Linked DNA regions of Homo sapiens: all the other regions are linked to region 1. Evidence: fine-mapped expression QTL. A gene starts in region 1. Each other region holds a variant in brackets. All regions are shown on one strand. Distances are between the middles of the regions. Region 1 holds the start of CHST2 (carbohydrate sulfotransferase 2). Region 2 has its middle 42 kb from the start of CHST2. Region 3 overlaps SLC9A9 (solute carrier family 9 member A9). Region 4 has its middle 36 kb from the start of CHST2. Region 5 has its middle 52 kb from the start of CHST2. Region 6 has its middle 110 kb from the start of CHST2. Region 7 has its middle 57 kb from the start of CHST2.

Evidence for each region.
Region 2: its variant is fine-mapped to the expression of CHST2 in whole blood (TOPMed, PIP above 0.99).
Region 3: its variant is fine-mapped to the expression of CHST2 in tibial nerve (GTEx, PIP above 0.99).
Region 4: its variant is fine-mapped to the expression of CHST2 in whole blood (TOPMed, PIP above 0.99).
Region 5: its variant is fine-mapped to the expression of CHST2 in whole blood (TOPMed, PIP above 0.99).
Region 6: its variant is fine-mapped to the expression of CHST2 in whole blood (TOPMed, PIP above 0.99).
Region 7: its variant is fine-mapped to the expression of CHST2 in whole blood (TOPMed, PIP above 0.99).

Annotation. Positions count from the first base shown.
Region 1 is chr3:143,117,652-143,121,718 of GRCh38, reverse strand. CHST2 (carbohydrate sulfotransferase 2) reads right to left here and starts at 1,948. Exons shown (of 2, transcript NM_004267.5): 1 at 1,178-1,948; 2 at 1-1,075. The coding sequence starts at 902. RefSeq lists silencers at 406-765, 826-1,025, 1,086-1,165, 1,216-1,265, 1,296-1,345 and 1 more and enhancers at 591-1,232, 1,556-1,605, 1,891-2,390, 2,586-2,715, 2,391-2,892.
Region 2 is chr3:143,159,964-143,164,030 of GRCh38, reverse strand. No RefSeq gene overlaps it. Among named protein-coding and RNA genes, the nearest start is that of CHST2, 42 kb to the right of the region's middle. The variant A/G (reference allele first, on the strand shown) is at 1,991.
Region 3 is chr3:143,653,290-143,657,356 of GRCh38, reverse strand. All of the region lies in intron 5 of SLC9A9 (solute carrier family 9 member A9), which reads left to right. LOC102724120 (a long non-coding RNA gene) reads right to left here. Exons shown (of 3, transcript XR_001740940.2): 2 at 2,567-2,661. Among named protein-coding and RNA genes, the nearest start is that of SLC9A9, 190 kb to the left of the region's middle. The variant C/T (reference allele first, on the strand shown) is at 2,111.
Region 4 is chr3:143,153,648-143,157,714 of GRCh38, reverse strand. No RefSeq gene overlaps it. Among named protein-coding and RNA genes, the nearest start is that of CHST2, 36 kb to the right of the region's middle. The variant G/A (reference allele first, on the strand shown) is at 1,725.
Region 5 is chr3:143,169,498-143,173,564 of GRCh38, reverse strand. No RefSeq gene overlaps it. Among named protein-coding and RNA genes, the nearest start is that of CHST2, 52 kb to the right of the region's middle. RefSeq lists an enhancer at 2,249-2,388. The variant A/G (reference allele first, on the strand shown) is at 2,015.
Region 6 is chr3:143,226,217-143,230,283 of GRCh38, reverse strand. No RefSeq gene overlaps it. Among named protein-coding and RNA genes, the nearest start is that of CHST2, 110 kb to the right of the region's middle. RefSeq lists an enhancer at 1,562-2,062. The variant T/G (reference allele first, on the strand shown) is at 2,099.
Region 7 is chr3:143,175,031-143,179,097 of GRCh38, reverse strand. It overlaps the pseudogene PBX2P1. Among named protein-coding and RNA genes, the nearest start is that of CHST2, 57 kb to the right of the region's middle. The variant C/T (reference allele first, on the strand shown) is at 2,396.

The sequences.
Region 1 (4,067 bases):
AGTGTGCGGTACTTGCGGCACTCCTCCTCGAAACGCGCCAGGCGCTGTGGCGGGCACTTCTTGCACACGCGGTCGTCCACCAACCCCACGACCTCCTTGCGGTAGGCGGGGCAGAGTGGTGACGAGCACACCACCTTGTTGGTGGCTGCGCCGAAGATGCCCAGCGTGGTGAGGTTGCGCCCCCCGCTGCCCGCGGGGCTATACAACTGGAAGACAGAGAGGTCGCAGCGGTAAAGAGCGCTCAGCATGTCCCGCGCTGCCCCCTGCAGGGAAACGGCGTCCCCCGGATACAGTTTTTGCCATACATGCCACACTGGCTCGTAGAGAAAGAACACCTCGGGATTCTGGTTGAATAGCTCGCCGAAGAACGACGAGCCAGAGCGCCACGTGGTGAACACGTACACCAGCTGCCGCTTGTCCCCGACGCCCCCGGTGCCCCGAGTGCCATTGCCTGGAGGGGCCGCAACCCCCGCCATCCCTGCCGCGGCTGCAGGAGCCGCCCCGACGGCGGCAGCGGGAGGGCGGTAAGGAGTGCGGAGGTCCAAACGGGCATGAGCACGGGGCGGCCCGGCCGGAGGCGGCCCTGGGCGCCCCCAGCTGCCTCCGGCTGCCCCCGCTGCGGCACCCAGCGGCCCATCGGGGTTGCACTGCTGCAGCGGCTCCTTGTGCCACTTGTAGTCCAGGAGGTTGAGCATAGTGAGCACCAGCAGCAGTGCATAGCCCGCGCACAACACCAGCGCCTTCCTACGGAACACCTTCATTCCGAGAGGGGACGCGGGCCAGCGGCGTCCTGGGCGCCGGGGCCACTGCGGGAGCAGGGCACGCGGCGCGGCTGCAGGCGCAGCCTGGAGCAGCCGAGGGAGCGCGCCCGGGGGCAGAGCTCGCTGCGGGCTGCGGCTCATCACAGGCACAATCCGGGCCGGCGGCGCGGCGGAGGCAGCCCTGCAGCCCGGGAAGGGGACGCAGCGGGCTGGCTGCTGGCGCCGGGACTCGGGCCGCGACTCCGAGGCGGGCGCGGCGGCTGGTCCCCAGCGCCCAAGGCTGGCTCTCCCATGGCAGCGGCTCCGGGTAGGACCTGCGAGGGGAAGCGGAGTGAGCGGATGCGCCCCAATCTCCCTCCCAGCCTCCTCCTCCTAAGTAACGCCCACCCTCGGTTCTGCCCGGTTCCTCCGCTCACCTGGAGCCGAGGGCGCGCCCGGGAGCGGCCCCGGATCACCGCCCGGCGGACTGTCCGGCTGTCACTCGTTCCTCGATTTCGCTCCCTCTCGCTTCCGCTGGGGGTCCCCGCACCTTCGAGGGGTCTGGGGAGTCGGCCGACTTATCCCTGGGCAGTTTCCGGGCAGCGGGCGCCCTGCGGCTCGGGAAGAAAAACTTTCACGCGGCCCAGAGCCCCGCTCCGCGCTCCGCCGAACCCGGCGCCTCCCGGCTCCAGCGACGTCTCCTCCGCTTTCTCGGGACCGCAGCTTCCTGTCTCGCTCAGGGGAACGAAGCCGGCTGGGGGCGATGGCTGGGGGCGGCTTATATGGGACTCAGCTCCCGGCATAGCGGCGCAGCCCCTCTCGCTTTCGGCCTCCGTGCGGCGAATTTTCCCACCTCTCTGGCAGCGGTGGATGGGGCACAGCGCGACCCCGCAGCGGCGGCGGCGGCTGCTTCCATCACCGGGAGGATGCCCGGGCGGACAGCGCAGGCAACCCCCGCCGCTCCGCAGCCTCCGACTGGACCAAAGGACCCCGAACACACAGCTCTAGGCAAGGAAACCCAGGTGTGCAGCACTGCCCGACCCGACCCAACCCGCCCCCGGTACCAGCGCTTCTGGCCAACGAGGTATTTAAGCAAAGAAAGACCCCGCCGCAGCCGCCGCCGCCGCGCGAAAGCGGCGCCCAGGAGGATGCTGCTACCCGACTCCCCTTACGCCGGGCGCCCGCAACGCGCTCGGACCAGCCTCTGCGCGGCTCCTGCCAGCCGGCGCCCGGTTGGTGCGCGCCGCCGTCTGTCGCCGCGGCTCCTCCCCTCCGCCGCGCAGCCCTCCCCCTTCGCCGGCCCCGCCCCCGCCCCCAACGCCGAGCCGGCTCCCACCGTCGCTGCGCCTCGGGGGCTGGAGACGCGACCCGCTTTACCGCGACGCGCGGGGGCTGCAGTCCACGGGTCCGAAGGCTTAGCTCTGCGCGCAAAGCGCCGGGATGCGAACGCGGGATCTGGAGCTCGTCGGTGCCGAGAGCTGCCAGAGAGTTGGATTCTGCGTGCAGCTGCCGGACTCGGCCCCATGTTTTTGCTCTCAGAAAGAGTTGGTGATGAAGTTTGGGCAGAAATCCCCTGTCGGCCGTCCGCTCCACGCTTCCCTCGGGGCCGACACTGCCAACCTCTCCGGGCACTGAGGACACCTCTGCGCCCTGGAGCGGTGGGAGGACGCGGAGCGCCGTTCTCTGGCTTCCGACACCCTGCCCGCCCTCTCTAGTGGGTCTGTGGCTGCGCCCTCTCGAAGGAAGTAATAAATCTTTCTGACCTTGGGGGTCAGAGGAGACGCTTCAGTTTTCCGGAGGGGTGTGCGGGCGGGACCGTCTTTCCGCTTTACTGGACCTCTGGCCGGGGCTGCTCTTGTTTCATTGTGCCCCACATGCGGAGCCCCGATGCTCTCCGCATTTCCGCTCGCGGTGCTGCGTCCACTGTGATTGACGTCCTCTGGAATTGGGGTGATGGGGGAGGGGAACGCCCCGTTCTAATTTGCAGAAAAATACTTGTCCCGCTTCTTGGTTTTGTAGATGAGATCAAAGAACTTGACCCCAAAGGAAACACCGTTGTTGAAAGAAAATCATTTTTCAGTTGCTTTAGGTTTAAGTACTTTTGTTTAAGGTTATGAGGAAAAGCGTCTCTCTCTCCCCCCAACTCCCTCCCTCCCCAAGAACACTAAGCTGTAGCCTCAACTTCATCTGTAGAATGGGGACAGTTGTAACAGCCTCCGGAGACTGAACGGTGGTTGAGTATCAGAGCGCGCACACGAAAGGTTAGACCTGAGTTCAGGCCTCCAAGTGCCGAAAAGGGAATCTCCGTGGGGCCTGAGGCTCAGCACCCTCGGATAAACAGAGCTCTCGCTGATCCGGAGTTTTGTTGCCTCCTGTCCCAGTAGAGTTTTTAGAAGTTACTGCACAATTATCTTTGTAGCGTTTCGGGCAGACTTTTCAGAGGACCGTTCTAACATTAAAATATTGCTGTTTGCGCCATTATTCTTCCATGAGTCTTACAGAATCCCCTGAGTACAAAGACTTGAAAAGTGACTTAACTCGCTTTCCACGGGTTTTTAACTCTCTTACGGATTTAGTTTCAGGGGAGAAAAATGTTCAAAAAACTTATTTATCCTTGTTTTCCAGAAAAACCCATAATGTCACGAGTACAGTTCAGCTTATTTTTTCTCCTGGGGAGGGGGATTGGGACAAGGACAGCAGAGCTCAAATTTTATATCCAGCTTTCTCAAATAATATGGCATTGCCTCTGGAAGTGGGTCGAGACAGGCAAGAATCCCTGTTAACAGATGAAGGTGGTAGAGTTTAATTGAGCGACTCCCCATCTTTTCCTTTTCTGGAATCCCCAGCCTCCCTTCGCCTACTCTCTCAAATGCCCCTGCCCCTTTTTCACCACCTCTTTTACCACGAAAACTAAAATGACATTGGTGCATGAAAAGACTGATGGGAGAGAGAGGGAATTGGGGAGGAAAGTAAATCTCAATTTTAATATTCAACATGATTCCAAGAAAAATAATTTCTAATATTTTTCATTTAGTTTCTGGCTTTGTGCTTACCCAGAAAAAAACTGAATTGCATTAGTCGATGTAGGGACCCTTTTTAAAAACAATTGTTTGCATAGAAATAATTCCGTTTGCAATTTTGTAACACTTTACTGGTGTTGGCAAAATAGTAAATCCATTTGCCAGGTGCCCCCACAGTGCTCAGCTGGCATAAATTTACGGGTTCTGGCATCTCCACCCTCTCCTTGCTTGCAAATTTTTCCCATTTTGCATGGTGTCATGATTAATTCTGAACTTTGTTATAGCTAATGACATCTGAAAACTTCAT
Region 2 (4,067 bases), 42 kb before region 1:
CAGCGGATGACAACAGAGGCTCAGAATACAAATAATGCTGTCTCTGCTGGAGGGAGAACCCCAGCACCATTCACTTCCAGAAGGAAACTCTTAGTGTGTCCCTGCCAGGAAAACTGAGCCAAACACAAAAAAACCTCCAGTTTCTTCTCTCCTTACACTAATCCACCACTCAGGCAAACAAACTGGAAACCTGGAGCTCTGAATAACAGATACCAGTTCAAGATGCTACTTTGGGATAAAGCGAATCTGCTCTGTGGTCTGTTTAGCAACTAATCACATTTCCTTTTTTTGTTGCTATGGCAAGGAAGCTCAGAGCCAAATCCGTTGCCTGCCTATAGCAAGGGTTCAGGACCAACTGATGTCTCTTTCTTTGTAGTTTTGGTTTTATATTTGTTTCCTATACTAATTTGTCTAAAGGCTGGCATATTTTTATAAGCCACATTAAACTGGCTTTGGAATGAGATAGGATAAAGATGATAGATAAACAGGAAGAAGGGAGGGAGAGAAGGAAGGAAGGAAGGAACATCCATATTATGTGCATGTATATCTAGATGAGAGAGAAAGATTTGATTCCTGAACAATTATCCAGAAAGACTGTCTGGGCAAAGTGCATCATTGGGGGTAAGAGAATGAGAACATCACAGCATCTGGCCAGAGTCCTGTGTGAGTCCCATAGGACCCTGACAGGCAAAAGAGATGGTTGACAGAGCCACTGGCTTAATGGGGTAGGAGGTCAAAACTAAAATGCCTAGTGTTGTTGTTCATGCCTGTATTACCCACAGCCACTATTAATGAGGAGGTACCATGTACTGTGTACTTTCCCACGCTGTCTTTTTTTATTTAGGAATAATTTACACACAATAAAATACACAGCACCATTTGTTGAAAAGACCATATTTTCTCCCATTGAACTAACTTGGCACCTCCATCAATCCATGCTTTCCTACTTAATCTTTACAGCAACCCTGTAGTGTCTTTCCCCTCTTTTAGATACTGAGAAACTGAAGCTCAGAAAGATGAAGTGACTTACAAATGTCACACAACTTCTAAAATGAGGCGTGTGATTCATACTCAAGTCTTACTGTATATCAAGGCCATCCTTTCAGACATTATACTCTATAGCCTTCAGCCTTCAAAGACCCAGGAGGACTTCCCTAACATATCTCATCTTCCTCTGTCTCATTTTTCTAAATTCCAGTTCCACTCGGACTTTGCATTTAGCTACGGTGATGGTGGTCATTATAGCGACTTGCATCATTTTCTAATTGATTCCTATGTCAACTCCCAAAACTTTTTCTCCCCTTTTCAACAATATTGTTTTGAAGTTAGCCAAGCCAGGTTTTAAATTTCTGTCTTCCCTATCACCAAGCACAGTGCTGGGTACACAGTAGGTGCTCAATAAATTCTTTTTCTGAATGGGAAAGTGAATGTTCATTTGAACAGTGAGTCTTGTGCCCCTCCTACCCTGTTCAAGGTACTTTAACTTTTAGGTTAAGTCTCACCAGATCCAGACTCAGTTCACCCAGAAATGAAGACAGTTGCTGCTCTCTCAGGCACAGATGCAGAAAAGGATTTCCAAAGACAAGAGGACAGTCCCTTCATTGCCCCAGTCCCCAAGTGTTCAGATGGGTTTATGCCCCCAGCTATTTGGATAGCCAGGTGATACTACAGATTAGCAGAAGAATGGTGGATTTTTGAAACCCAAGGGAATGAATTTCAAGAAGCTTTCAAACTGCCAAATAGTTCATAAGCAAAACTAAAGTTATATTTTGACAAATACAATGACTTTTCCCCCACAACACATTTCCTTTTCTTTCTTTTTTTTTCTTTTTCTTTTTTTTTTTTTTTTTTTTTTTTTTTTGAGATGGAGTTTCGCTCTGTCTTCCAGGCTGGAATGCAGTGGCGCGATCTCTACTCACTGCAACCTCCACCTCCCAGGTTCAAGCGATTCTCTGGCTTCAACCTCCCGAGTAGCTGGGACTACAGGCAC[A/G]TGCCACCACGCCCGACTAATATTTTGTATTTTTAGTAGAGATGGGTTTTCACCAACACAACATTTCCTAAAGCTCATAGACAGTTTACTATTTAGAGGCATTCAGGACAGAAGTCTAACACTGGACTTATTTTGAAAAATTGGCAGCATTTTAGTGGGAAAATTTCCCTATATAAAACTTGGAAAGTAAGGAAATGGACAATGAATGGTTAAGTAAAAGGAATGTTTGAAAATAATAGTTAAATCCCCTTCAGCCACAGTAAGGCAGCAAGAGAAGAAAAAAAAAGAATACCAGGATCAGAGTCAGAAGGCATGAGTTCAAGGCTCCACTCCACATTGCAGAGCTGTGCACTGGTCCCTTAAGCCATCCACACTCCAGGTTCCTCCTTCAAAAAGGGGTTGTTACCTAGAAGATGCACATCATGCCCTTCTTAGACAATTCCAACTACATGGGTTAAGCAATAAGAATAATAATTTTAACAATTAAAATGGTATAATCAAAGTACATAAGTACTTTGAGTCTCTGCTATATTTAACAATATATGGCTGGGTGCAGTGGCTCACGCCTGTAATCCCAACACTTTGGGAGGCCAAGGCAGGTGGATCACTCAAGGTCAGGAGATCAAGATCAGCCTGATCAATATGATGAAACCCCATCTCTACTAAAAATACAAAAATTAGCTGGGGGTGGTGGTGGGCACCTGTAATCCCAGCTACTTGAGAAGCTGAGGCAGGAGAATCATTTGAATCCAAGAGGTAGAGGTTGCAGTGAGCCAATATCACGCCACTGCACTCCAGCCTGGGTGACAAGAGCGAAACTCTGTCTCCAAAAAAAAAAATATATATATATATATATACATATACAATTATATATACATATGACCACACAGAGTTGTATACCCTAACCAAGGATGCTACATTTTAGAGATGATTTCAGTATTTTCCAAGGTAATTCTGGACATGTGCCATTTTCACCTTATATACTATATTTAGAATCTGGACCCTCACCTAAGCCACAGCTCTGCTCAGCCTGCTTCACACCTGTCTTATGAGGGTCAGTGGAGACAGTGTGTGTGAGCTGCTTTGTAAACTAAATTTGCCAGAAAACCATAGCTTTGTCATAAATATGAAATGTGTATGAACTACTGGACACACAGGAATTACAAAAGAAACTGAGGAGTGAATCATGAAGCACTGTCAGACAAGGCAGCTTCTAAGGAGTCCTGAAGATGTCGTTCTGAATAATTAAAAAGCAAATCTTCCCAGAAGATGTAAGGTTATAGAGCTGAGCTGTGGGCGGGGAGGTCCACACTGGAAGCTCAAAGAACCCCAGGAAATGCAGCTGAGAAGCAGAGCCCTTGGAGGACAGGAATGTCTGGGAGCCCGGAAAGCCACAGGCCTGGGGCCCACCGAGAGGGTAACACAGTGACTGAGAGGTTAAAGTAATTCTGCAAAACAGCTTGTCCCTTAGAGCAGTTTCCCTCCCAAGGACACCATCAGCAGGAAATCATGGGGCGGTCGTGAGAGACCGAAGTCCCCCGGGGAGAGGTTAGGTATCCTATAGAGAAACACAGGGGTGAGGACGGACAGCAGCATCCGGCGACTCAGAAGGAATTAAAAAGCCAAATGGCAGAGTGTGTGACATAGATATGAAATCCAGGTTCTATGAAGAGAAACCCTCCTGATTCCACAGCCAATGAGAAGGTGAGCTTCCAAATCCTGTTCGTGGGATCCGTGGGTGACCCCTAGTACCAGGACACAGTCAAGAATTTCTGTTTCCACAAGCAAAGTTAAGTGGAGAATTCAGCAAATCTGTTGGGAAACCAGGGACAAAGAACTCGGACTTTTTCAAAAAAGGGCTGTCTGTTGTTTCCTTCAGCTAAATTATGAGAATACATTCTCAGCTCTACCTTGTAAAAATGAAAAGAGTCTTGCAGGGAAGGACAAGTCTCACCATTTCAGAAACTCAAGAAGCAGTTTGATTGTCAAATCAAATCAGTCTATAAACATTTTTCTAAAAGTCTCCTCAGGTCTTTGCAATCTTTTAGAATTATCTGAAGAAAACAACAGCAATGGG
Region 3 (4,067 bases), 540 kb before region 1:
AGTACCAAAATGATATAGCATATTGATGGTTAAAATAAAATTGCAAAGTTTTAGGGCTAAATTCCTCATGATGTTTTGTGTAACTTAAAATTTAGAATGACCTAAACAAATTGAATGACTAGTCATTAGCTTTGTAGATCTGGCATTGTTTCTCTCATGTAACTCAGAAGGGTTAGTCTTTTCACTTGTATTCTAGGATTATGACTGGCAGAGCTTGACTGGCAAAATCAATCCATGCATCAATTTTGCTGCTAAGTCTTCACTGAGAATTTAATAATTCTCAAAATAATTCCCATATTTCAGCCTGCACCCAGATACCACAACTTTTTTGAAAGCCTCTCCTTCAGATCTCACCGTATACAATTTTTCAGGAAAGTGGGAAAAGTTACAGGAGAATTTCCTCCTCCATCCTCCTTCTTAGAAAAAGAAAATACATTTTCACAATAATCATTTTTTGGAAATGGAAAAATGCTACCTCGTTTATGAGAATACCAAGGTTCTACACCTGTCAGGCCTGACACCGATTCAGCTGCAAAATCTTCAGATGTTTTTGATTCTCTGTGTGTCATGGACAAGTGTCATACATAGTGATTTGCACAGAAAACCATAGAGAGCACTCTCCAAGGGAGAGCCAGCATTTTGACAAGGCTGAATGACAACGTAGGAGGACAGGGGTAGGAACTATTGTATGTTGTTGTCCTTCGACCTAGGCAGATCTTGTGCTAGGTTGCTGAGAGCTGCCACATTAAAATATCATTTGAAATTTAAATTCCTTGTAAAACACTTAGAAAATAGGGGTCATAGAGCTGCTAATGGAGATTCTAGGGAAGGGGCTGTCACTAAATCACCCTAAAGACTTGGAAGTTCTGAAAGGGCATCAAGAAAGTGGTCAGCTGAAAAGACAGCAGTTTAAAAAAAATTGTCAAACATCTAAGAGTAAACACATTGAGATACTCATGGAGTCATGTAGTCATGATCTGTATTTTTATCACTAGGTGTGGTTATCATCTTTGAGATGAAAAAGGATTAGTTTTGATGCTATAATAGAGTTGTAGGGGAAAAGACCCTTGGTATGATGAAAAAATCAAAATATTATATCATTTTAGTGTTACAGTTTTTCTCTTACAGACTGAGAATTATCCTATGTTTGACCCTAACAGTTTTTCATGAAACTTGCATTACCTGCCTCCAAGATATTCTGCACATTTTCAACCTTCCTGTAGCCTCTAACTCATGTGTTTCTCTCCTGACTCTCAGCAGATGATCTTACTTTCCTGAAAAGACACATTCCCCTTCTGCCCTTCAGTTTTCTTCTGCCTTCTCCAGACCTTGCTCCAGCAGTTTTCTCATCCTTTCTCTCTGTCTTCAGCCTCTCTTTCCTCTGGCTTATTCTTGTCAACCTATAAATTAGATGTCTAAGAGAAAGCCTCACTTAGACCTCATAAGTTATGGCTTTTTCTCTCTTCATCCTTTATCAAAAGCTTCTCAGAGTGCAGTCCACACCACTGGCTCCTCACTCATTCCGCTCAAAGACCCTTACCATTTGATGGCTGAAATTATTTTCTCAGAGATCTGCAAGGATTCAGTGGCATTTCTCAGTTATCACATTCCTCTATTATGCTTACCTAGAGGTAGGGGTGTGTTTGTGTGTGTGTGTGTGTGTGTGTGTGTGTGTACATGTGCATGTTCATCTCCTTGAGCATAAGATCATATGTGCTTGTATCTTTTATTATCAATTTGAAAGACAAAGTGAATTTTTCTCTAGCTACAACATCATGTAAGAAGAGGGTATGTAGAGGAGAAGGAACTCCAAGCCACAAGTGAAGCATGAAAATCTGCCACTAAAAGATGAGTGGAACTAAAGTAAGTTAAAGACAAAATGACCAAATTGTCTGATAAAATCAAAGGTTTAAGAAATCGGATTGCATCTTTTCCCCTTCCTATCCACACGATGTCCAGAGTGTTTTCCTCTTGTGGTCCCAAGAACTCTCATTTACATGGGCATTGACTTTTAGTCCTGCCTTGGACCTAGGTTATCTTTACCAGCCTTGCAAGGTGTGGGCAGAGCTGGTATGTGCATGTCCACAGCTGTCCCAAAGATTCTCTCCTG[C/T]GGAGGTGCTGCAGAGAGTCTTGGACATTGCGTGTAAGATTGAGCCCTGCCAGGGAGCTAATTAAATGAGTTTTTTAAAAGCTCCAAGCTCAGCAGCAGAGTGGGTGGCTAATTTCCTGACTCACCTATTTGACTCATTTGTGTTCCCAGCAAAATACTCCCTCTTGTAGGACACACTGTCTAGCTTTATTTCAAAACTATTCCATTTCTTCACAGGGTAGACAAGAATGTGCAAAGTAACAGTTTTCTCTTTTGTGTGGGACATCGTTTATGAAACAGAGTTCAGTTCTTTGTTCAAAAGGAATTGTGGGAATGTCAGAGCAGTTATGAACAAAACTGGATATTCAATTAAAAGCCTTTCCTCTTAAAAGCTCAAAGCTTTCGTTAGACAGGTGTAGAGTCTTCCCCATAGGGCAGAGGGGCTCCATAAGTGGGGAGGTGGGGTAAGGGCCTTACCTTCCTTTTCCTGGGCCTAGGAAACCTCCATGGAAGTGGAGATGGGCTGCAAGTCATCTTCAGAGCTTGATGATACAAATGAACAGCTACAGAGTCTAAAGTTAACAATAGAGAGGCCATGATAGAATGTTCTAGTTAAAAAAAAATGTTACTTTTATTCCACAAGATCCTAGCCAAAGGAAAATGTTGCTAACCAAACCCCATTGTAACTTTTTTGTTTTGGGTAGATGCAGTGTCTTAACTCTATCCAAAAAGGAGAAAGAGATTACTTAGCAGAAGTGTTTGCTTGTTCCCTCCCACCAACTGCAACGTCTAAAAGTTGTGGCAAATGTTAACAGCTGCATGCTAGTAAAAAGCAGATCTCTGCCATTTTACCTATCATGATTAATAGGACCTATTCAGCTAGAATAATAAAATTGATTCTATGCCTGATAAAATGGGATCTGGCCAATTGTCATGTCAATTCATATGGCATTTTCTTTCTTTTTTTGGATTTTGCAGTAACTTCTTTAAAAACACTTTTTAATTGACAAGAACTGTATATATTATGTACACAGCATAATTTTTTGAAATATGCATATCTTGCAGAATAGCTAAATCAGGCTTATTAATATATGTATTACCTCGCATGCTTTTGTCATTGTGCTTAGAACACTTAAAATCTGCTCTCTCAGCAATTTTCAAGTGTACAATACATTGCTACTAAATATAGTCACATGTTGTACAATAGATCAAAATCCAGAGTCATTCCTTGCTGCCTCTCAAGCACCAACACCCACCAATTTTCCATCTCAAATATCTCTGGGGTGCTGTCACCTCTGCTATATCTTCCTTGATGTTCTCTCTTATTCGTTCACTCATTAAAGGCTTACTATGTCGCATCACTGTGCTAAGGGCTTGTGGCACACAGAGAAGATGAAAACCAGTGAGGTATATTTGTGAAGTACAAAGCACAGTGGTCATTGGTCTATTAGAACCCAGGACAGTGAACATGTAAGAGTTTGGGAGCATGAATCCGGGCCTCTTCCTGTCCTGGTACAACTCATCTCTTCCTGAAATTATTGGGAAAGCCTCCAGCCATGTGTCCATTCTGCCCTCTGCTCTTCTGCCTGAGCTTTATTTCCAAAGTTCAGATTGTGTCATCTCTCTTATTAAAACCCTTCATGACTCTCTATTATGAAAGAACAAGCTCCAAACTTCTTAATCCTACTTATAAAACCTTCACATTCAACTTGTCTGTCTTGCTTTTATTTCCTCGTAGCACTGTTTTGTACAACACAGTTACTAACCTCACCACCCATGAAATAGGAAAGGAAAAACAGAATTAAAAATACCCATTCTGCCTTAGACATTTGCCATCAATATCATTTTCAACCTCCCTCTTTCCCCCTTGGCAATTAATTCAATGGATCATTTTCCTAATGATTGCTGTTCACACTCTGCTTAACTGTTTTAAATATCAAGATATTGAATAGTTTTGATGAACACAGATAATCAGTGT
Region 4 (4,067 bases), 36 kb before region 1:
AGAGATAGCAGTGTGAACTTATGGCTATTTTATTTTATTCTGGCAAAATATACATAACATAAAACTTACCATCTTAATCCTTTTTAGGTGTACAATGCAATGATATTAAGTACATTCACATCGTTATGCAACCATCACCATCTACCTCCAGAATTTTTCTATCCTTCTGAACTGAAATGTTCATGCCCTTTGAACAATAACTCCCCATTGTCCCCTCCATCCAGCTCCTAGTAACCACCAGTCTACTTTCATTCCTCTATGAACTTGACTATTCTAGATACTTCATATAAGTGGGATCACGTAACATTTATCCTTTTGTGTCTGGCTTATTTCACTTTGCATAATGTTTTCAAGGTTCATCCATGTTGCAGCATGCATAAAAACTTCATTCCTTAAGGTTGTATAATATTCCATTGTATGCATATGCCACATTTTGTTTATCCATTCATCCATTAATAGGCATTTGAGCTTCTTCCACCACCTTTTGGCTATTGTGAATAATGTTGCTATGGACTTTACAGTACAAATGTCTGACCAAGTCTCTGCTTTTGATTCTTTGGGGTATATACATAAAAGTGGAATTGCTGGATCATCTGGTAGTTTTACATTTCACTTTTTTTAGGGACTGCCATATTGTCTTCCACAGTGACTGCACCATTTTATACTCCCTAAGGCAATACGCAAGGGTTCTAATTTCTCCATATTCTCACCAACACTTGTTTTCTGTTTTGAGGATAATAGCCATCCTAAGAGGCGTGATGTGGTACCTCATTGAGGTTTCAATTTGCATTTCCCTAATGATTTCTGATGTTGAGTGTTTTTTCATGTACTTCTTGGCCATTTGTATATCTCCCTTGAAGAAATATCAGTATCAAGTCATTTGCTCATGTTTAATTGAACTGCTTTGTTGTGGTGGTTTTTACTAAGTTTTTGGAGTTCTTTAAATATCCTGGATATTAATCTCTTACCAGTATATGATTTACAAAAGTTTTCTCCCATTTTGTAGGTTGCCTTTATCTTCTAGATAGTATCCTTTGATGCACAAAAAATTAATTTTGATGAAATCCAATTTATCTATTTTTTGGCATAATATCCAAGAAATCATTGCTAAATCCAGTCACTAAGCTTTTCTCGTGTGTTTTCTTCTAAGAGTTTTATAGTTTTAGCTCTTATGTTTAAGTCTTCAATCCATTTTGAGTTAACTTTTGTGCAGGGTGTAAGAAGTATTTCATGATTTCAAAATTTTGTGCGTGGCATAAGGAGTATTTCCTGATTTTAAAGTATCAGGAAATATTTCCAAAAGCTGATACCTCCAGCTTTATTGTTCTTTTTCAAGATTGACTTCGCTACTCATGGTCTTTTGTGGTTCTATATAAATTTTGGAATTTTTTTTATTTCTGTAAAGAAAGTGCCATTGAGATTTTGATAGGGATTGTTTTGAATGCATAGATCACTTTGGGTAGTATGGGCATCTTAACAATATTAAGTCTTCCAATTAATTAACATGGGATATCTTTCCATTTATTTACATCTTCTTTGATTTCTTTCAGCAATGTTTTGTAGTTTTTAGTGTTCAAATCTTTTACCCTCTTGGTTAAGTGTATTCCTACTATTTTATTCTCTTTGATGTTAATGTAAACGGTCCTTTCAGATCGTTCATTGCTAGTCTATAAAAATGCAGCTGTTTTCTTGGTGTGGTGATTTTGTAACCTGCAAGTTTGCAC[G/A]ATTCATTTATTACTTAACAGTTTACTTGTGCAATCTTTAGAATTTTCTACCTGTAAGTTTACGTCATCTGTGAACAGAGATAATTTTACTTCTTCCTTTCCAATTTGAATGCCTTTCATTTCTTTTTCTTGCCTAGTTGTTCTAGCTTGCCTAATTGCTGTAGGACTTCCAGTCCTGTGTTAAATAGAAGTGGTGAGAGTGACTGAGTATGATGCATTGGATTTTGAAATAGAAATAGACACTTAGTAAAAAAAACAAAAACTGGGAAAATTCTAATAAAGCCTATAGTTTAGTTAATAGTATTATACCAGTGTTCATCTCTTAGTTTTCATAATTATACTGTAGTTATTTAAGATTTTAATGCTAGAGGAAGCTTGGTAAAGAGTATATGGGAACCCCGCACTATTTTTGTAACTCCTCTGTAAATCATAAATGATCTCAAAATAAGTTTTTTAATATCTGAAGGAAAATAAAAGCATACAGAGTAAATACATTGGGAGTCCTGAAATATCTTTCTAGGCAAATAAGGCATACTTTCACTTTTCATTAGTTAATTACCCATAGTAAGTGTCCACCACCTCTGCCACTCTGGTATATAAAGTCCTAGAGGGCAACTGGCCAGACATCACATTAAAGAAGCACTATGGCACTGGACTGAGTCAATTCTGAATTTCAGCTTTGGGGATTTCTCAGGGCAAAGTTGTTTAATATCTCTGAAATATGAAAATATCTTTCCAGGATTGTTGTGAATATTAAATAAGGTCATGGTTAAAAAAGCACTTAATCCATGGCAGGTATTTAATAAATATCCTTTCTTTTCTCTTGTTTTAAACATTTAAGACTACAAAGGGAAAACGAGATATGGTACCTTTCACATAAGGGCCTTACATTCTAAATTGGGACAAAATGTACACATATGTTAAATAATTATCAAATAATAGCTTTACATTCTATTACAAGCAAGTGCTAAGATCCAGTAGCGAGTGGGACAGTGTGCAGCAGAGCACAGCACACACAAAAGTAGAGAAATGTGAGCTGGCATCCCCGGGGCAGCCTTCAAAGGAGTGGGGCTGTACTGAGCTTGGTGTGCACAGATAAGAAAATGTTGGGGGTGGTCGGGTGCGGTGGCTCACACCTGTAATCCCAACACTTTGGGAGGCCAAGGTGAGTGGATCACCTGAGGTCAGGCATTCGAGACCAGCCTAGCCAACATGGTGAAACCCCGTCTCTACTAAAAAATACAAAAAATTAGCCAGGCCTGGTGGTGGACACCTGTAATCCCAGCTACTCAGGAGGCTGAGGCAGGAGAATCACTTGAACCCAGAAGGCAGAGGCTACAGTGATCCACTGTACTCCAGCCTGGGCAACAGAGCGAGACCCCATCTCAAAAAAAAAAAAAAAAAAGAGGAAAAAAGAAAAAAAGGAAAAGTTTGGGGCTGAGAGAGGCAATTGAGCCTAGGACAGGAAGAGGCAGAGACCTGAAGATACAAGTATATCTGGGTGGGTACCAGATAGTTCCACATTGCAGATACAGCAGATCAGTGGGAGACACATTCATTTGGAGCATGGAATAGATGTGAGGAACCAGGGGAACCATACTGACTAACGGGGAATGGAGCCAAATTCTGGAAAACCTGAAAGGCAGGCTGAGGGATTCTTTTCTCTTTTTTTTTAAACCGGGTCTCACTCCATCACCCAGGCTGGAGAGCTGCAGCACCGTCATAGCTCACTGCAACCTCGACCTCCCAGGCTCAAGCAATCCTCCTACCTCGGCCTCCTAACTAGCTGGGACTATAAGCATGTGCCACCATGCCTGGCTAATTTTTGTATTTTTGTAGAGACAGGGTTTCACCATGTTGCCCAGGCTGGTCTTGAACTCCTGGGCTCAAGTGATTCGCCTGCCTCAACCTCCCAAAGTGCTGGGATTACAGGCGTGAGCCCTCATACCCAGCAGGCGGCTGAGTCATTCTTGATGGCAGAGGCAAGAGCAGCTGTGGTGGATCCTTAAGTAAAGATGGAGCTCAAGGTAAGCATATAATGCTTTAGTTTGATCTGTGTTTGGTAGTCACAGAAGTGTTTTAAGCAAAGGAATCATAAGATCATAGCACGGTATCTTGAGCAGAGTTCTGTTGCAGGAAATCAAAACCACTTTGCCAATTTTAAGCAGAAATGTTAAATGCCTATAAAGTCATTGAAAGGGCTGCAGGACTGAACTCTAGGCCATTCTGTTAGAGGGATTGTAAATTGGTGAAGACTTTTTGGAAAGCTGTTGGATGACATCTATCAAAACTATAAACATGTATTATATTTGATTCAGTAATCGCATTCTAGAAAAAACTCAA
Region 5 (4,067 bases), 52 kb before region 1:
AAAGAAATCAAATGAAAAATCTAAACTGATATTACAAACTAAGAACTCAATAAATAGACTTAACAGAAGATTAGACACAGCTGGAAAAGGGACTAGCAATTTGGAAGATAAAACAATGGAAATTACTCAGAATGAAGCACAGAGAAAAAAGATAGAAAAAAATATAGGAGACCTATGGCACCTAGTAGAAAAATTTAACATATATGGAATTAGAGTCCAAAAGAGGAGGGAAAGACAGGAGGCAAAGCAATATGTGATAATGACCAAGAATTTTTCAAAGCTGACAAAAAAACGTCAAGCCACAGATTCAAGAAGCCCTTCAATCCCCATGAAGATAAACAGAAAGAAAAACGTGCCAACACACATCATGGAAATCTGCTGGAAACCAAATACAAAGAGAAAAAACTTAAAGATAAATACAAAATAATGTTTGCTTCAGAGAACTGGATAAAGATTCACAAAGAAGGCAACAATTCATTTATTCAACAAGAATTCACTGGGCACTTAATAAGCATCTATCACCAACTTGAGTCTTTAAAGAAACAAAGATATAAATTGCATTATCTCTGTTGTCTAGCAGTTCAAGTTTCATGTGTAAGAGAGATAGAAATGTAAACAAATTCTGCATAAAGCCTGCCAAAACGGATTTTTTTTTAACTGCAAAGGAAGAATGACGCTTGGAGCAGGCAGGTGTGAGGGGGCACAGAGAAGCTGCAGAATATTTGCATGTTGTCTTGCTAAAGTTTCTAGGCATTAAACAACCCAAGCAACAGCACAAAGGAATGAAATTGGACATCTCATCGAGCAATCGTGAGTTGTCTCTTGGGGTTCAGCATGGGGAGATGACAGGGAGTTGCAGAAAATGAGGCTGAAGAGTAAAGTTGGAAACAGATTCAGTAGGCAGTTGGGACTTACCACAAGTTTTTTCAGTAGGAAAGGGACATCACCAAGTCATTCTTTAGGAAGAGCACTCTGGGGCAACTTCAAGGGTACTCTTGAGAGGAAATCGATAGCAGCCCATGAGACCAACTAGACAGCTACTTGTCATGGTCCAGGCAAGCAAGAGAGAGTACGGCCTGAACTAGGGCAACAAAAATAGAAGTGACTACATGAGAGGGTATTCTCTAGACATTTCAAAGCCAGAATCAACAGGACTTAGCAGCCATTGCTTGTAGGAGACAGAAAAATAAGTCCAAGTTGACTTGGGTGTGTGGAGGATGTCACAATGATGTTAACACAAGGATAATATCATGAGGCTTGTTGCGTTAGAAACATCAATAGAACATTTCTGAAATGTCCATCAGGGAGCTGGAAAGTCCAGTTTAGAGCCCAGATGCAAAATTAGGAGCTGATACCAAGCTGTGAGGGCAAAGGAGAGAATGAGGCAGCCTGTGGCCTGGCAGAGCAAGAACTGAATAAAGACCAGTGACCCTGAAGTTAACACATCTCAGGAAATACAGATTATCCCAACAAAATAGTCTTAGGTTACTCATTCTGAGACTTGTGAAAATATTTTAATTAAAAAGAAATCATTAGGATGCGCATTACACAGGAAAACTGTTTGAGAAACAGATCTATTACCCTTTGTATTTTATGTTGTCCTGAAGCCTTTTGCTAAGCTGCATCCCAATTTTTTCTGCTTATACAGCAGAAACACTAATGATATGAGCTGTAGTTAAAAAGCACTTTCCAAGTCTGCTACTTGAAAACTTCAGTATGAATAATGTCAGAGGCATGGGGGAGGTGGTTAAAGGCTATGTCTCTGCTGTGTTTTTAAAATAATGCACATCAAATAAAGAAGAAACACCACTTAAAACTGAGATTAAATTTCCATTACATTAACCAATTACTTTGATTTAAGTATCTATGTATATATACACATATACATACACTGTCTGTATGTGCCAAGTGGGAAATTTTTTCTCTGTTATCAGTCAATTCCTCTCATTTCACTTATGATATATGGATAAGAACCTAACTTTGTCAGAGATTAGGAGCATTTTTGCAGCCCCAC[A/G]TTACTGCAGAATACTAAAGTTCAGGTCAAGAATAACAGACTTCCTTCTGCTGCAGAAATTTTCTCACAGAGCTACACCGGATGCAATTTGAACTTTTGTGTTTCTTAACTACTTGTGGTTTATTTCTTTAAGTCAGTTGATCTTGCTTCAAGTCCCTGAGGCCACTAGAGAGAGGCAGCTTGTTAAGATTTGTGCATCTGATCTTTGAAGATGACTCCCCAGATTCCTTTCCTACACCCCTAAAAACCAGCACCCAATAGTATCTACTCTATCGTGGGCCTAATTAGAGAGCAAAACAATTAACAGTTACTGAGTTCCTCCTCTGTGTTCAGCACTGCTTCATGTAACAAGAAGCAAAGAAGCCGTGGAAGAGATTTAAGTAAATGGAAGACAGAAGTTATATTTTTAAAGAAACTAACCAAAAATAGCAAGACACTATCATTGAGGGCTAAACTGAGCAGCATCCAGTATTAAATGCTGTAGGATCTTCTACAAAGGAGAGACTTGAGTGGACTGTGTGAATCTGGAAGGCTCTGTGAAGGAGGGAGAATTTAACCCTGGAAACACTAGTGGGTCTCTTTTACCCCTTTGCTCTGGGTGTAGCATTTATGTTACATTTTGGCACCCAGCCAAGGAAGAACGTTATACCACAGACCTGGTATTAGACACAGTTGAATTCTTTGAAAATTCAAGCCTTCTTCATCACACTTTGTAGTAAGAGGTCAAAGCTACAGTTTCTCTCACTGCCAAGCCCTCATCTGTGCTGCCTGTTCCAATATTACACACACACACACATACACACACACATACACAGCTGCCTGAACTTGTATAGAGGTAAAGCAGGGAGAAGGATTCTCTTTCCCCAAAGTCTGTAGCCTTATGTGAAGAGGGATAGTGCAGCTGATTCCAGGCCAATCTCAGGCCACATGGCGGCATCATGGAAGCTGGTCTGCAGAGCCCCTAGTTCCTCACCTCTGCCAACAGCCTCCTTTCATCCTCATTTACCTCCCTCTGGAATGTTTTCTCAGTAAGTTCAGATATCATGGGTTGTCACTCACCACGTTTATTAAGCACCTACAAAGCACAAAGTACTCTGCATGGAGTAGAATCTGTGAACCCAATGAACAAGGGAAGGAACTGCCAAGAAGTATACAATCTATAGGGGGACCTGACCGAAAATTCTAAGGCTGGCAGTATGCTAGAATTGTACACAGACAAAGCTATAGGATGGTGTAAAGCTTAAACCTACAGGCATCAGAATTTTTTTAAAAAGCCTTGTGGTTTATGAAGGTCTGCGGGGCAGGAAGAAGGAGGCAAGCGTTCATCAGCCAGTTCCTGAACACACGAGACTTGTGAGGGAGGACCTCGTGGGTCAGCAGCAGGGAGGCCCTCACAACTCTCAGGGAAGATCTCATGAGATTCAATATGAGAGGGAAAGGTGAACGTTAGACCTAAAAATAAAAAATAGGTGAAGGGGTTGTTGATAACATATATTTGAAAGAAGTCCCAGAGTTTGTCCAGTAAAACCTTCCTGAGCTGTCGTATTGCTAAATTCCACCTCTCTTTTTCCAACTCCTGATATGTAATGTCATCTTATCAAGACAGGGGCTGGTTTCTGCATTAAGGATATTAAGGGAGGAAAAAAATCAGTTGGGAGGCTCAAGGAAGATAGCCTCAGAAGATGGTAGGAGATGGCCTCAGAACCCAGCCCAGTGAGTAGACTCTTCTAAGGTGGCACTGGGGAGAAAGGCATGATGGTAATAGATGGGGAGAGTGAGCTGCATGTTCCAGAGAGCACATGGACTCCAGAAGAGCTGGATACATTGACGTCTGGGGCAGCATGGAGAAATTAGGAGGAGACCAGTGAGAAGACAGTGGGGCCAGTTCCCAGAAGGCCCTGCCTGCCAGGCTACATGGTGCAGAGTGGATTACATAGATACCGGGGAGCCAGCAATGTTTCTGAGCAGGGGTAGAGACTAGATCCCATCAAACAACCCCACAAAGTCACTGACTGATACAGCCTCTGTGACTATTTCAATACACATGGAAATA
Region 6 (4,067 bases), 110 kb before region 1:
TGCTCACCTTGCCAAAACTCCAGAGCAAGTTGTAATGATTGCCAAGAAATACCAACAAGTGGCCAATGAAGTAAATTTCCAGTAGCCAGTCATTTCTAAAGAATACAGAATTTTTGTCTGATTTTACATCTAAGTATATATCTTTTTGATGCAGTCTTTATATGCGTATTAATACATATATAAGGTGATAATACATATATAAGGTGATAATACATATATAAGGTGATAATACATATATAAGGTGATGTGAGTTCTGAAGCCTGGCACTGGCTTTAGAATGTGGCAGTTCTTTGTGAAAAACTTTAAACTGAAAAAAGGGGATGACTGTCCAGGTGACAGTAACTGTTCAGGGTGAAAATTATGGATTTTTTTAGGGTTTTACTCAAAGTAGTCTAAGGATAAAAGAAACTAATGAATTCATTCATTCAGCAATACTGATTGAGCACCTACTATGTGCCAGGCACTATTCTGGGAAAAGGAATAAACAGTAAAACAGTTAAAGTAGCAGACACCAGTGTAATGAAAGAGTAAATTAAAAGACAGCTCACCAAGCCATACTCACCCACTGGCCTGAGGTTGGGCCAGGTAAGCCTGACTGAAGGGAAGTGGACCACATGGGCTCCTGGGAGCTGCCCTTGCTTCCTCAGAGAATGAAGAAAATTCACATGGATGCAAGGCCGACTTTGTGCCAAACTCTGTGCCCAGGGCTGTTTCATTATCTTTTCTTTTCTTTTTTTTCTTTTTTTTTTTTTGAGATGGAGTCTCACTCTGTCACCCAGACTGGAATGCAGTGGTGCCATCTCAAGTCACGGCAGGCTCCACTTACCAGGCTCAGGTGATCCTCCCACCTCAGCCTCCCAAGTAGCTGGGATTACAAGCATGCACCACCACACCTGGCTAATTTTTGTATTTTTAGTAGAGACAGAGTTTTGCCATATTGGACAGGTTGATCTCAAACTCCTGACCTCAAGCGATTTGCCTGCCTCCGTCTCACAAAGTGCTGGGATTACAGGCCTGAGCCACCACACCTGGCCCATTTCATTATTTTGTGTAATCATTCTGACAGCTCTCTGAGGGCTTGTCATTTCTATATCAACAACAAGGAAACTAAGCCTCAAGTGCTTTGCCACCTGCCCAAGGTCAGGTAGCTCATGAATGAGTGAGCCAGTTATGATTCAAGCCCAGGGCTGTCTGACCCCAAAGCCACACTTCTTCCTTCAAACACGCTTCCTGAGGGGCAGCCACCCTGAGGAGGTCATGTTGGGGAAGCTCAGCCAACGGGAGTGGTTGGCAGGAGCCAGAGAGATGGGGCTGTGCTGTTAGTGCCATGCCTCTGTCACTACCCAGGGACACAGCCCCACTCAGAGCTGGCTGTCAGAGAACTCCAAACAGCAGCCTTGAAGGGTCTAGATATGCTTTGTCTTTGTCCTCACTTACCACGCCTTTAAATGTCTCTCTCGCTGGGGGCAGGGTTATCTAGATTCTAAGACAGGGTGTTCTTATGGCTGCCCCTTCCCCCCAGCACCTTTTACTCCTTCCGATGGGTATCATGGCTGCAGCGATGCTTGATGCTTTGCGGTGGGAGCTCAATGTCCCCCAACTCCCTAGCCAGCTTGGAAAAGTGCCACTTCCTCCCTCGGGGGGCCACAGCTCAGGCCAGCTCTTCTCCCAGCATCCCCAGCCAGCACCAGGCCCTAGGGGCAGTGAACAGGCCTCCTGCGCCCTGCCGCACAGCCATCCTCCGCACGCCCGCTGCTTCTCTCAGGTGACTCCTGGGCCTGACTGTCCCACAGGCCAGACACCGGAAGCACAGGGAATTGGACGTATCTCAGGCTATCCCCGGCCTCAGCTTCTCCCTTCCCAGCACTCCCTCCCTGAGGGTCCTCCTCCACAGGCTGCTGGGAAATGAGTCCGAACCCCAGCACCCGTCTCTGGTAACAGGGCTAAGGTCTCTTAAGAGTAGGTGAAGGGACCTTAGCCCTGTTACCAGAGACGGGTGCTGGGGTTCGGATTCATTTCCCAGCAGCCTGTGGAGGAGGACCCTCAGGGAGGGAGTGCTGGGAAGGGAGAAGCTGAGGCCGGGGATAGCCTGAGATAC[T/G]TCCAATTCCCTGTGCTTCCGGTGTCTGGCCTGTGGGACAGTCAGGCCCAGGAGTCACCTGAGAGAAGCAGCGGGCGTGCGGAGGATGGCTGTGCGGCAGAAGAGTAGGTGAAGACAGTTAGAATGGCAATCATTAAAAAGTCAGGAAACAACAGGCGCTGGAGAGGATGTGGAGAAATCGGAACACTTTTACACTGTTGGTGGGACTGTAAACTAGTTCAACCATTGTGGAAGTCAGTGTGGCGATTCCTCAGGGATCTAGAACTAGAAATACCATTTGACCCAGCCATCCCATTACTGGGTATATACCCAAAGGACTATAAATCATGCTGCTATAAAGACACATGCACACGTATGTTTATTGCGGCACTATTCACAATAGCAAAGACTTGGAACCAACCCAAATGTCCAACAATGATAGACTGGATTAAGAAAATGTGGCACATATACACCATGGAATACTATGCAGCCACACAACATGAAGAGTTCATGTCCTTTGTAGGGACATGGATGAAACTGGAAACCATCATTCTCAGCAAACTATCGCAAGGACAAAAAACCAAACACTGCATGTTCTCACTCATAGGTGGGAATTGAACAATGAGAACACATGAACACAGGAAGGGGAACATCACACTCTGGGGACTGTTGTGGGGTGGGGGGAGGGGGCAGGGATAGCATTGGGAGATATACCTAATGCTAGATGACGAGTTAGTGGGTGCAGCGCACCAGCATGGCACATGTATACGTATGTAACTAACCTTCACATTGTGCACATGTACCCTAAAACTTAAAGTATAATAATAAAAAAATAAAAAATAATAAAAAAAAGAGTAGGTGAAGGAAGCAGTTGGCCTTTCTGCTTCGTTTTCTAGTTTTCATCTCCTTTTTGAAAATACGTTAAGTATGAAGAGGCAGCTGTAATTATGGTTTTTCTTTCCTGCCAAAGAGCTGTACTTAGAAAGTTGGGGAGATTCCTAGACAATATATTTGGACTTTTTTTCCCCACTGTCCCTAAGATAGAAGTTTGTGTTCCCGCCCTTCCAGGGGCAGCTGCAGGTACCACAGTAAAGGGCTGGCTAGGAGCCAAAGCAAATCGAAGCACGTGTAAGCCATGCTGTCTCGTAGTAACAGCAATTGATCCCAGCCAATGCCCAAAATATACCAATAGAGACTTTCTTTCTCTCTCTCTGCAACTGGCTTTCTTTAGCAGACACCGCCAGTCGCCTACTCAATATCCAGTTTCTTTGTCTCCTTCATGTTGAAGCCCTTCACTTCCAAGCTCCTCACAGCAAAGCAGTTCTGACTGGCCACACTTGTTGCCCTGCCAGCTTCAGCTTCCCTTCTTTCTGCCTGTGAGGATTTGGGACAGGATAACTTGAGACGCGGGAGTCAAAGCTGACTTTCAAGATATGACGACCACCAGGTTAAACAGACCCTACAAGTCTCATTCCTTTCATCTATTTGGAATTTATTTTTATAAATGATACTAGACATGAATCATTTTTAATTTTCCTCCAGATGAATAGTCTGTTGCACTCACATGATTTATTAAATAAACCATTCTTCCTCTACTGAATTGAAACAGCACATTTTAATATAGAGAATTTTCATATAAGTTTGAGATCTGTAATAAAGTTATATTATAGATATTTTGGGGCTTAAAAAAATAAGGAAACCATTAATATCCCAGGTAAAATCAGGATTTTGGATATTCAGGTTCCCTTTATTCAAGCAGAAGGCTGAATATCTCAGAGAACTCTTGTCATGGGCAGTCTGGTGCTGTTTTATTACTATAATATAACAGTTTGGGATCTGTTTCTGAATTGTCCATCTGTGCTCTAATCTATAGAGCTATCCCTGTGCCTATATCATATCGATTTATTACGGTGGCTCTTAGTGTTTTAATACTTAGTAAAGCAGGTGCCTCTACATCATGCTTCCTTCTGCACTTTTACTGGCTGTTCAC
Region 7 (4,067 bases), 57 kb before region 1:
GGTTCCCCACTCTGACAGTCTTGTAAAATCCTGAGAATGTCTGAGGGGATCAGATGGTAGGGTTCAGGGCTGAGGATGGGACAGTGTTGATGTTACTTTTCCCCCACATCTGGCTTTTTGCAACCTCCTCCCTCTCCCTACCCCTTGATTTTGGTGTGACAAAAAGATACCTCATTTATGCGGAAATTGAGGAAGATACATATACAAGCACCCCAACCCATAATTAACATATTTGGCAATAACTCCCTTCCCATTCTTCCCCCTCCAATTTTCAAATAGAGTTTTTTAAAAAATTAAAGACATGTCACTCACAGGGGAAGATGGCATCTTCAATTTCCTCAAAATTACTGAGTCCAGCCCTGCCCAAGGGTTGTGGGAAGAAGGGGGATGAGAGGCCAGCAGGGCAAGCCCTTCACTGCCTCCACATCAAATGCGGCAGAAACCTGCCTGCATGAACAAAGAACACCTAATGGATTTTAGGGGGCAAAGCTTGGTGCCCTGTAAAATTTACTTCCTGATGGACAGGCCTGGAGCCAGGGGGGCCTCTTTACCAGTTCTGTTTGTCCCCCTTTCTCTTACCAGAACCCCTTTGGCTATCACCCCTAATATGGGAAAGTAAGAAATAAAAAAAAGACAAGAAATCAACATATTTATTTAAAAAAAAAAAACAAGCTACTTCCCCAAACTAAATTAAAAATTAAGAACCACCACCACCAACAACAACAACAACAAAAACAACAACAACAACAAAAACAGATGGATCCCAGGGTTTCTTTTTCTTTCTTTAAAAAAAAAAAAAAAAAAAAGTTCAACCCCAAAGCCCAGTCAATAATTCCCTAAAGTAGCAGAAACTCCCTCCGAGGTAGATATCTGAGTCAGACACTCTCGTCCACCAAGCGATTCTATTGGTTTAAGATGAGCTGCGTATGAGGTAAGTAAGCTGTCTGGAGGGGCAGGGGTGGGGATGCATGGGGGCGTGTCCCATGTCCTCTGTCCAGAAGTCATGTCCCCATTTTTGGCATCTCTGATTGGGCAGGGCTGGCGTCTCCAGATTCCAGAGCCTACAAGTGGGGTGGGGAAGGGAAAGTGGGGGAGCCCAGGAGAGAAACAGAATAGTTGCAAGTGGGAGTATGTGTGTGTGAGGTGTGGGAGAGGGAGAGAGAAAGACAGAGGAGAAAAAGGGGTCTGAGAAAATAGGTTTCTGGGTATGTGCATGTTTCTGTGTAAGAAAGAAAGCGAGAGAGGAAAAAGTTGGAAAAAAGGGAGAGACAGACCCCACACTCCCCTTAGGGGCCCCATTCTTCCTGCCATGTAATTAGCACCCCCAGCACAGACAGTCTCATTAGGGAGCGGATGACCCCATTGGCCCTTCTCTGTCTTGTGCTTCTCCTGTATTGGGGTTTGTCCTCTGGAAGCCTGCGTCCTCTTCAAGAGTCGCCTTGTGAGAGCCCCCACCCCTGTGACCCTGAGGGGCAAGATCAGTTGGAGGTATCAGAGTGAACACTCCCTGGTCCCTCCGTTGGGGATGTCACTGAAGAGGGGGTCACAGCCTCTTGCCAGCTGCCATTTGCCCTCATTTCCCGTGGGCTGTACATCTGGCCTCCCCCGAGGTTATCCCCATAGCCCCCTGGCCCCATCGAGCGTCGGAGTGATGCCACCTGGGAAGCAGAATAGGAATCTCCGTTGAGCCCAGGCATCCCCAGAAACATGTCTCCAGATCCTGAGATATTGAAAGAGCCGCCAGAGCCTGCAGAGGAAGGGGGTGTCGGGGAGCTGGTGCTGCTGTGGCCCCCCTGGGTGACTGACACGGCTGTCTTGACAGCATAGATGTTTGCCTCCTCTTGGAACTTTCCGATGTTTTTCTTATAGCGAATCTTCTTGTTGCCAAACCGGTTGGAGACCTGAGACACGGTGATGCCACACTTCTTGGCAAGCTCCTCCTTGGCCTCCTCACTAGGATATGGGTTACTCAGGTGGGAGTAGAAATACTCATTTAGGACCTCAGTGGCCTGTCTGCTGAAGTTACGGCGCTTTCGTCTGGCATCCAGGAAACGGGAGCGCAGCATCATCATAGCCTCGCAGGTGCTCTGCTTCAGCTGCATCTGGATGGCGCTGAACTTTCGATGGATGATGCTCACCATGCGTTCCATCTCTTTGGGGGCCACGGGCCTGGTGCGGCTCTGCTCCCTCAGCAGGTTCATGACATGGGTCGTGAACTCATTACATGCCTGCTCATACTTCTCCAGTTCCGAGTGGTATATGTGACGGATCTGGGCAAGTTTGCTGCGATAGTCCGAGTGTTCGATGGAGTTGTCAGGGGACACGCCACCACCAGAGGCTGCAGCGGCTGCAGCTGCTGCTGCTGAGCCGCCCCCTTTCTCGGGCCCAGCCACAC[C/T]CTCTGCCAGAAGCATGTTGTCCAAGCGCATCAGCTGTGGGTCCACCGGCTCCTCCTCCTGGGAGCTCCGAATGCTGAGGCCGGTTTTCTCCTTGATTTCACACAGGACGCTAAAGAGAGCAGGCTTCATTCGGTGGCAGTTTAGGGCGTGTTTCTTGGCCTGGGCCTCGTCCAGGCTCTGGTCGGTGATGGTCATTATCTGCTGCAGAATGTCCCCGATGTCTTGCTTCCCTCGGCCTCCCGGGAACCCCCCGCTACCCCCACCGGGGTCTCCGCCACCAGGAGGCTCGCCAGGGCCCCCAGGCTCCCCACTCACCAATCCCAGGCCCCCCCCGGGCCCCGCCTGGAGGAGGCGGCCCCAGTAGCCGTTAGTCCATAGCTGGGGGGGGGCCCTGAGGCCCCCTCCCTGCTCAGCCCCTCCCCCCGCTTGGTTACTTCTCCCCACAAACTCGCTGGGGCCGCTGCTCCCTCCGCCCCAACCCCCGCCCGTCTGCCCCCGGCTCTCGGCTCCCCCGGGGGTTCACCCCGGCACTGAAGGGAGACCTGGGATACCGGCTGGGCCCCCCACAGGAGACCCCGGCCCCCGGCGGCGGAGAAAATGGAGCCGGAGAGAGAGAGGAGGCCCAAGCGGGAGTGTGTGTCCACATTGACATTTTGTGTTGGTGGGTATGCAGACAAGTGTGTATGAGTACTTTTGTATATCCTGGGCAATAAAATTTCAAGATTTTGCTATTTTAAATTGCTGAATTGAAAAAATAGCTATTTCTGGGTCATATACCATATTTGCTTGGATATCATGAACCCTTTGTTAGCAGACAGATTTTCAGTGTATGGCCAGATTTAAAGGACTCTTTTTGGGTATTGGTGAATTTACACTGAGGATTTCATGTTCCACTGCAGGCACCTTCTTCTCTGACCTCTCTCTGACTTAAAGCTTTGTCCCCAGTCTCTCGCTGGGTCTCTTCCTCTTACTAGCACAAATGCCAGACTCTGCCCTAAAACTTTCCTTCAAAACTCCACATATTCTTATGTCCTCATAGTCTCCCAAGCTAATTGCAAGTTTCCTCAAAAAAAATTTCTGTCCTTAAAGACATAATGTATGACTGAAAACCCTTCAGACCCCCTATTCTCGACGTAGGAAAGGCACTTTATATCATGTAAGTCCTAGTAAGGCTGAAGCTACAAAAGAAGCCTATAAACTTTCCAAATTCATTCTTGCTTGTCATCTCAAAAATGCACCTGAGGGTGTGGTTGGTTTGTGCCTCTCCCCAGGCCCATTCTTGCCCCTCTCTGTGCAGCCTTGGAGACTGCCTCCACTGGACCACATCAACCTGGCTCCACTGCCAGCTGGCTCTTGGTTGGGTTTGGCCAAGACCGACCCCTCAAGGTGAGGCAGGAGGAAAAAGAAGAGAAGATGTTGCCTTCCTGCTCCCACCCTGCCCTGCAGCATGTTTTCTGGTAGCGACTACATCTCTCCCTGACTTCAGCTCCCACCAGACTGGAGTAAAGCACTTTGCAATGTTCTTCATCCCTTCAGGCCTGGGGTGGTAATGACTGCCACTGTTGCTAGTCTCTGGGTGCCTCAGCAACCCTGCTCGTTCTCTTAATCCTGTCCACACCCCTTAAGGAGCCTCTTCTTTGCAGTCTCTTGAACTATGTGAATTGGATTGGT